2 linked regions of the Homo sapiens genome follow. The protein of the gene in region 1 interacts with the protein of each later gene in a biochemical or structural test. Each region holds a gene or a part of one and is shown on either strand. Other genes may lie near its edges.

Region 1 (3,067 bases):
ATGCACTTTCTTTCCTTTCTCAAAATAATGTTATATGTGGCCACACTGATGTTCACCTTTACGTCCAGGGTCTTTGTGCCTTGTCTCTACTCCCTCTCTTGGATCTGGGGAGGAGGGGCAGAGACCTGGGACTCTGTATTTCTATAGTTCTCCTGGCAGAGCCTTTGAGAATGGGGAGAAACAGCCTGGGCTGGGGCTACAGGTCTGTCACTATGCTCTCTTGCCTTCAGACAGACCATTCTGAATTCTCTAAAGGGAAAGGGCTTTTGCATCTAATCACAATAGAGTTGAAAGAGAGGCCTTAGGATTCTCCTCTCTCTAGGTGCTGAGCCCTCACCTCCCTGTTCCAGGCTGAGAACTCAAATGGTTACCCTGCTTCTTCCTACAATGCTGTGTGATATGGGTGAACCCAGCCCCTGACCTTCCTCTATCCCCTGCCCATCCTCCCTTTTACCTCCTCTCTTTTTTAAACACCTGTTTATCCCAACCTTTTTGAGCTCAAGCTGTGATAAAGAAGGGCCCATCCTATTTCCCCTCATCTAGTCCATTTACGATTCTCACTGACTCCCCGTCTTCCTGGCAGACACAAATAAACCCAGTGTCAGGTCTAGGAAATTAATGGCTATTCTTCCCCAGATACATTCTGGCTTATTTGAGATACATGATTCTCTTAGAATCCTGTCCCTTGGTTCAGGAAAGTAGCTTGGAAAAGGAGTAGGGGTATAGCTTGGGTCCCTTTTCCTGCAAGGCCCCATGGGGCAGAATATAATAAATATTCTGAGTGAGGAGTGTGGTCTTTTTCTGATCTTCCTCAGCTTCCGTAAGTTGCAGAGTGAGGTATATTAGGAGACTAGTTCTACACAATATTGTAATGCTGGGTTCCATCAACACCCACCTTCCACAACTCAGTCTGCACCTCAGTTGGCAAAGGAGACTGGATGGCCATCTTTCCTCATGTTCCCTTGAGTATTTCAATGTAGAAAGCCCTTCAAGTGGTATTATATTTTAACCTTTTACATTATTGTTATTAATGTTAGTAATATATTGTTATGTTTTCTAAATTATTTTTCTTTAAGCTGACGTGGCTTTTTTTCTGTGGCTCCCAGTGGGTCTACGGACCTTGGCTGACATATGTTGGTAGGTACTCTGGTCAGCTCAGCTGGCTGTCCTGGTTCACTCAGAAGATAAGTCTCTCCAAAGCAAATTCACATGCATTATGAGTCGCTTTGAGCTTCTGACATGTCACTTGCCCCGAGGTTAAAACTTTTCACCCCTTGAAGACCTTACATGTTTTATGGTATTGGTGAGGAAGGAAATGTTCTCAAGGTCTCAGGCTATTTGGGAAATTCCAACTCCTATACCTTACCAGAGCATGGAAGAGCCCAGATCTGAATGTAAAACGTCTCTGTTCTGCCAGAGATGGAAAAAATACAGGTATACTTGTGATATAGTCATGGGGCTTCAGTGTCACTATTTTCTCCTTAAAGCTCCAGCCAAAAACTGGACAAGGATAGAGAGGAGGAGGGAAGAACAAAAGAGCCCTTCTCTATGAACCTTGTGCCTTCTGTCCTACCAGTTTTCTTTTACAGATTCTCACTTCTGCTAGCCTAGCCAGGGCTTACTCCAGGAATCTAAATAGATGCCCTAGTCCACTTTATCTTTGTTCCCAAGGCACTCATTTTTATTTTGATTTTGATTGAATGTGAGCAGGTTGACCTCAGGTCACACTTTGTTCCAAAAACTTTTGGAATTATTCCAGGACTTGTGGTGGAGTTATGGTACTCTAGGGCAGTCTTTCTCAAACTATGTATGGTAAAGGACCAGGTTTTTTGTTTTCCAGTCCTTCACTTATCAATATGCATTCCTATTGCCCATGACAGGTATGGAGTTCACACTGTGTGCTGCCGACCCGGCAAGTTTGACAGCACCCAAACTGGCCAGACTGTTCTGTAGGTTAAGTCCATTGATCATGTACTTGGATATCACAGCAACATTGAAATGCTAAAAAGTTTTTAAACACTCTCAATTTCTAATTCACCATGTCACAGACTGGTGAAAAAAAAAAAAAGGTGTTCACTGACCAGCACAAGTCTGCAGATCATCTTTGAGTAGCACTGTTTTGGGGCCCTCGGTCTCTCTGAAGACCCTAGCAGAACTGATACCTACCTGTATCTCTTGTTCTCTCCTATTTGAGTTTCACTTCCAGAGAACTTGTTCTTCAGCAAGAATGTGTCACTAGTAAGGACATCTCTAGCATTTCTCTAGCCTTCCTTTTCTGCTGCTCAAAAATAATCGTTACAAAGCTTAGGTTTAAGCTGTATATGAAATATTTATGCGACTCTCAAACTTTAAAGGAGTTGCTCCTTTGTTCCAAAATTAAATGTGTTAGATAAATTTGTGATTGTATGGGTGGCTTCATGAATTAAGAATTGAATTAATACAGACTTTTTGATAATTGGGACATTTTCCTGTGACTCTGGAAGGTCTTGTCAAAGCCCCATGAGGCAGTTATAATATGATGTTAAGATGGCTTTGGGGAGCTAGGAGAAAACATTGGCCCATATTGAATGACGTGGAGACGGCAGACCATACAAAAAAGGACCAAAAGACTTAGAGGAAATGGGTATGCAAGAATGAATGTTATATAACACTGGTAAACCCACCAGCTGACTACCCCAGAAAGACCTGGGAATTATTTTTTAATAAAGACAATGGGAAAGGCACTGATGAAGGGTTACCAGCATCTTTGAGAAATTTAGAAGTGGCTGTCTCTCTAGATCGAAGCTGATACAAGATGTAAAAGAAACTGTTTTCCTAGTAGCAGTGGGGGAATGATAGGATCCTGACATAGCAGAGGCCAGGTGGCAACACTTAACTCTCAGAAGCAAGGTGAGTAAATTTCCTTAAGGGTAGCAAGGTCAAAGTGGAGATGGCTAACGGAATGTGAGTGGTCCTAGGAGCAGGATAGATGGGCAACCAAGAAGAGTATTGTCTTATATATAAGGGAGATCAAGAATGGTTGAACAGAAGGCTGAAGTCAGAAACTTCAAAGAAAAGTCCCCATTTC
Region 2 (3,541 bases), about 66 Mb from region 1:
ACAAAGATATTCAAATGAGGCTTACATTGGTGCACGTGTATTACTTATTCTGGTGCTTCAGTAGTGCCATTCTCACTATGTCAGTTCTTTTCAACTCAATGTGAAATGCTCAAAACCTGAAAGTAAACCCAGTTTAATTCTCTTTATTTTCTTTCCTCCTCCCTCCCTCCCTCCCTTCCTTTCTTCCTTCCTTTCTTTTCTTCTTTCCTTTCTGTCTTTCCCCCTTCCCTCTTTCCTTTCTTCTCTTCTTTCCTTCTTTTCCTTCCTAAATGATATAGAAATTTTAGGTAAAAGCAAGGATTTGAGAAAAATTGGAATAATGGTAAAGGTGCCTTGTTCCACAAAATACATACCTGATTAAGGACCTTTTTTTGCCAGATACTGAGCTAAGTGTCATGAGGGATGCAAATTAATTACAGTTTTTACCTTCAAGAACTTTAGGATGTAGATGATAGTCTACAAGTGATAAAATGAAGAGCATAGGATTTGAAGTCAGAGAGCCTGGGTTCAGGCACCAAAGTTTCTAGCCTCAGTTGCTTCCTTTGTATAATGAAGTTATTGAGCCTTACCTTCCTATCTCTTAGATTACCATGAAAATTAGACAGGTAGCCTATATGAAAGTACTTAATAAAATTCAGTGAAATTCTATATAACTGTGTGACTTTTAAAGATAGCTTTTATTATTTTATGGCATATTATAACTTGTCAATTTTTCATGAACTGAGCAGGAAATTGAATAACTAGAAATCAAAGGCATTTAAAATATAGCCAAGCCTTTATGTTTTCTCGGAAGTTCATAAGTATTATAGCCATAGGACATTGAGAGGAATTGAGAGCATTTGGGTTTCACCCTTCCTCTTCTTTTGGAGGTATAGACAAGTAGCAAAATAATCATCACGCCAGTGATCATGTGAAGGAGGGGAACACAACTAGAATGTGAGGGGCCAGGATAGCTAAGAAATAGTAATACAGAAAATGGAAACTCAGAAAGCTTTCTGAAAATAAGCCACTAAATAAAAACAGAAGGCTTTGTAACTGCTGTTGTGTCTTCAGAGGTTAGGATATATCGGCAGTTTTTATAGCTCTTTTTCCCCTCTACTAAATTAAAAACAAATAAAAAGCCTTAAGCTGGAGATTTCAAGCTGATTAGGAAATCAGGCTACAGGAAACAATACTGACTGACCTATGGAACAGTCTTGCATTTAGCACAGTTTAACCTACTGGTAGCTGAGATCCTTGGTCATGGAGTTACGGAAGCATTCTGATTTGTGGGATGCTTATAGATTTAGCTCCCTTAAAATAATGAGGAAGTCTGTATTTTACTTTTCATAAAAGACAGTACTATATTCACTCTTAGTTACTGACTTTTTTTCCCCCTTCTTTCCCATAGTACTACCTGCATATGGATGGCAGAGGCAACTATGAATTCAAACAGATAACAGAAGATACAGTTGAGTTTGGCTCTTAGAGAAATCTGGAGAACTATACCTGCTTCAGTGAAATAATTACAGAATATACTTAGAAAGGCAAAGTACATTGTAAAATAAAGTTGAGCTTAGTTTTTTTTAAAAAAAAAAACAAAGCAACAAATTAACTAGATACAGAATAATGGAGAACAAGTTGTTAAAACATTTAATATTATATAGGATATTGCTAATTGTGTATATGTTGGTTTAATTAATAATATGTACTAAGAATGTCCTTATTCTTGTGGTTAAAAACCTGCCTAAATTAAATTGGGCTTCAATCACTGTAACCTGATTCATCCTGGGATGTAAACCATTCGAAGTCAGCTAATTGGACTTTTATGGCTCTATCTTTTCCTTCAGTGAAGAACCCTATTTAAAACTGGGTCATCATTTGTCCTGTTCTAGCAAGATAGTCTTCAGTTTCATTTTCCTGTGCCCTGTGGTAGTTGGAAACAAATCATAATGTATTATTTAAATGTTTAACATCATTGCATAACAGCGTTTATTATACAGTGGCAGATTTCTTTAGCTGCCACAGTAATACTCATTCCTTGTGTGTGTCTTGGAGTGCATTTGACTCCAGGAAAAGCCATTTTGGTTTTCCTTAACTAAATGATAAATGTACCCCTCTCAGTCTGCAGTATTGAGTTGTTTAAAGTATATGTGCAGTCTTGCTTACAAGGAGGGGTTACCATGTATCACACCTAATCTTCCCAATGTTTGGGATATTAAAACACAAAGTCCTTAACATGCCAGGCTCAAGGTCTTATAAGAGTTCTAGATTTTTAAGAGAATTAGACAAATTTGTGTGTGTTAGAAGCCCATTCATTAGAAGTGTGGTGGTTATTTGGTATTAAACTCCAAATGAGCCATAGGAAGGCACTACATGAAATAATGCACTGAGTATGCAATGCTATCACTGTCTTTGACTGTGATTTTATGTTTAAAAAGTATGTTCTAAAATTATTATATATACATGGGTGAATTATGTTTCCGAGGCACTGTTTTATCTCTGTGAATCTTGAATAACTTTTTTATATTTGGGTTATGATGTCAAACGATCCTAAGCGAAGATGATTTCAGTTCATCAAATCATCATTAATGACTTTATGTATTATTTGCACAGGGAGAATTGAAACTGAGTATAATCAATAAGCTAGATACGAAATCAGTTTCTCAAACTGAGCTTCAGAAAGGGGCATTTTGTACTCTTGTTTTTGCATAACTGGTTTTGTTTTTTTGCAGAATTAACTATAACAATCACTGGCTACCGAAGTAAACTGATGTACTGAATTCCATAATACATAACATTCAATTTTTACCACTTCTGTTTAGCGAACTTGTATACTTATTTTCTGTTCAGATTAAAAAAAAAAAAAAAAAACTCAGATATCCTATACAACCTTTGCTTGTTCTTTTTATTCTGGTATCTAAATACTGAGAAGTTCATTTATAATTCAGCCTTGACTTGAAAACATAGATAGTTTAATCTTGACTTGAAAAACACAAAAATAAATTCAGAAAATGCTTTTAGCACAGTGTCTCTTTTTTAAAGTTTTGCCAAGTGTGGTTTTTAATTGAATGAATTTCTCTTTTAGAAAAGTTCAGTAAAATCTGTGTACCTGACAAATGCTACCAAACAGCCAGGAGACCTTAAAAGATACTATTCGTCTTGGAAAAGATTTTAAGGCATGGGAAAGTTTCAGATTTTCAGATTTCTGGGTTACCTTAAACCTACTCGTAGAAGTATTCTCCTAGCTGCCTTATAATTGCTTTTGTTATGATTCTTGCCATCAAAACAACAACAACAACAATTTGGGCTTTTTTTCTTAATTATTTTCTTTTTTATGTAACAAATATTACAGTGCCTCACCATTTGAGGCACAGAGGAAGATCCTTCTGGAGAATCACATTAACATAATAGTGGTTCTTCGAAGACCCACAGTAAAGAAATCCATTGGTTCAAAAACATGATTGACCACGGAACATCTTTTTCTACATAATTCCTATTAACACCTTCCAGAAACTGCAGTGGGAAATGGTAGTTTAATCCGAAGAATAAACCAAAGAAT

The links.
Region 2: the proteins of PEX19 (region 1) and ABCD3 form a complex in vitro, tested with the Homo sapiens proteins (4 studies listed by BioGRID and IntAct, with this or other methods).

The regions. Positions count from the first base shown.
Region 1 is NC_000001.11:160,276,201-160,279,267, reverse strand, and holds the end of PEX19 (peroxisomal biogenesis factor 19), read left to right. Parts: 3' UTR 1-2,461; downstream 2,462-3,067. UniProt on the Homo sapiens protein: Necessary for early peroxisomal biogenesis. Acts both as a cytosolic chaperone and as an import receptor for peroxisomal membrane proteins (PMPs).
Region 2 is NC_000001.11:94,515,662-94,519,202, forward strand, and holds the end of ABCD3 (ATP-binding cassette sub-family D member 3), read left to right. Parts: intron 1-1,390; coding exon 1,391-1,468; 3' UTR 1,469-3,002; downstream 3,003-3,541. UniProt on the Homo sapiens protein: Broad substrate specificity ATP-dependent transporter of the ATP-binding cassette (ABC) family that catalyzes the transport of long-chain fatty acids (LCFA)-CoA, dicarboxylic acids-CoA, long-branched-chain fatty acids-CoA and bile acids from the cytosol to the peroxisome lumen for beta-oxydation.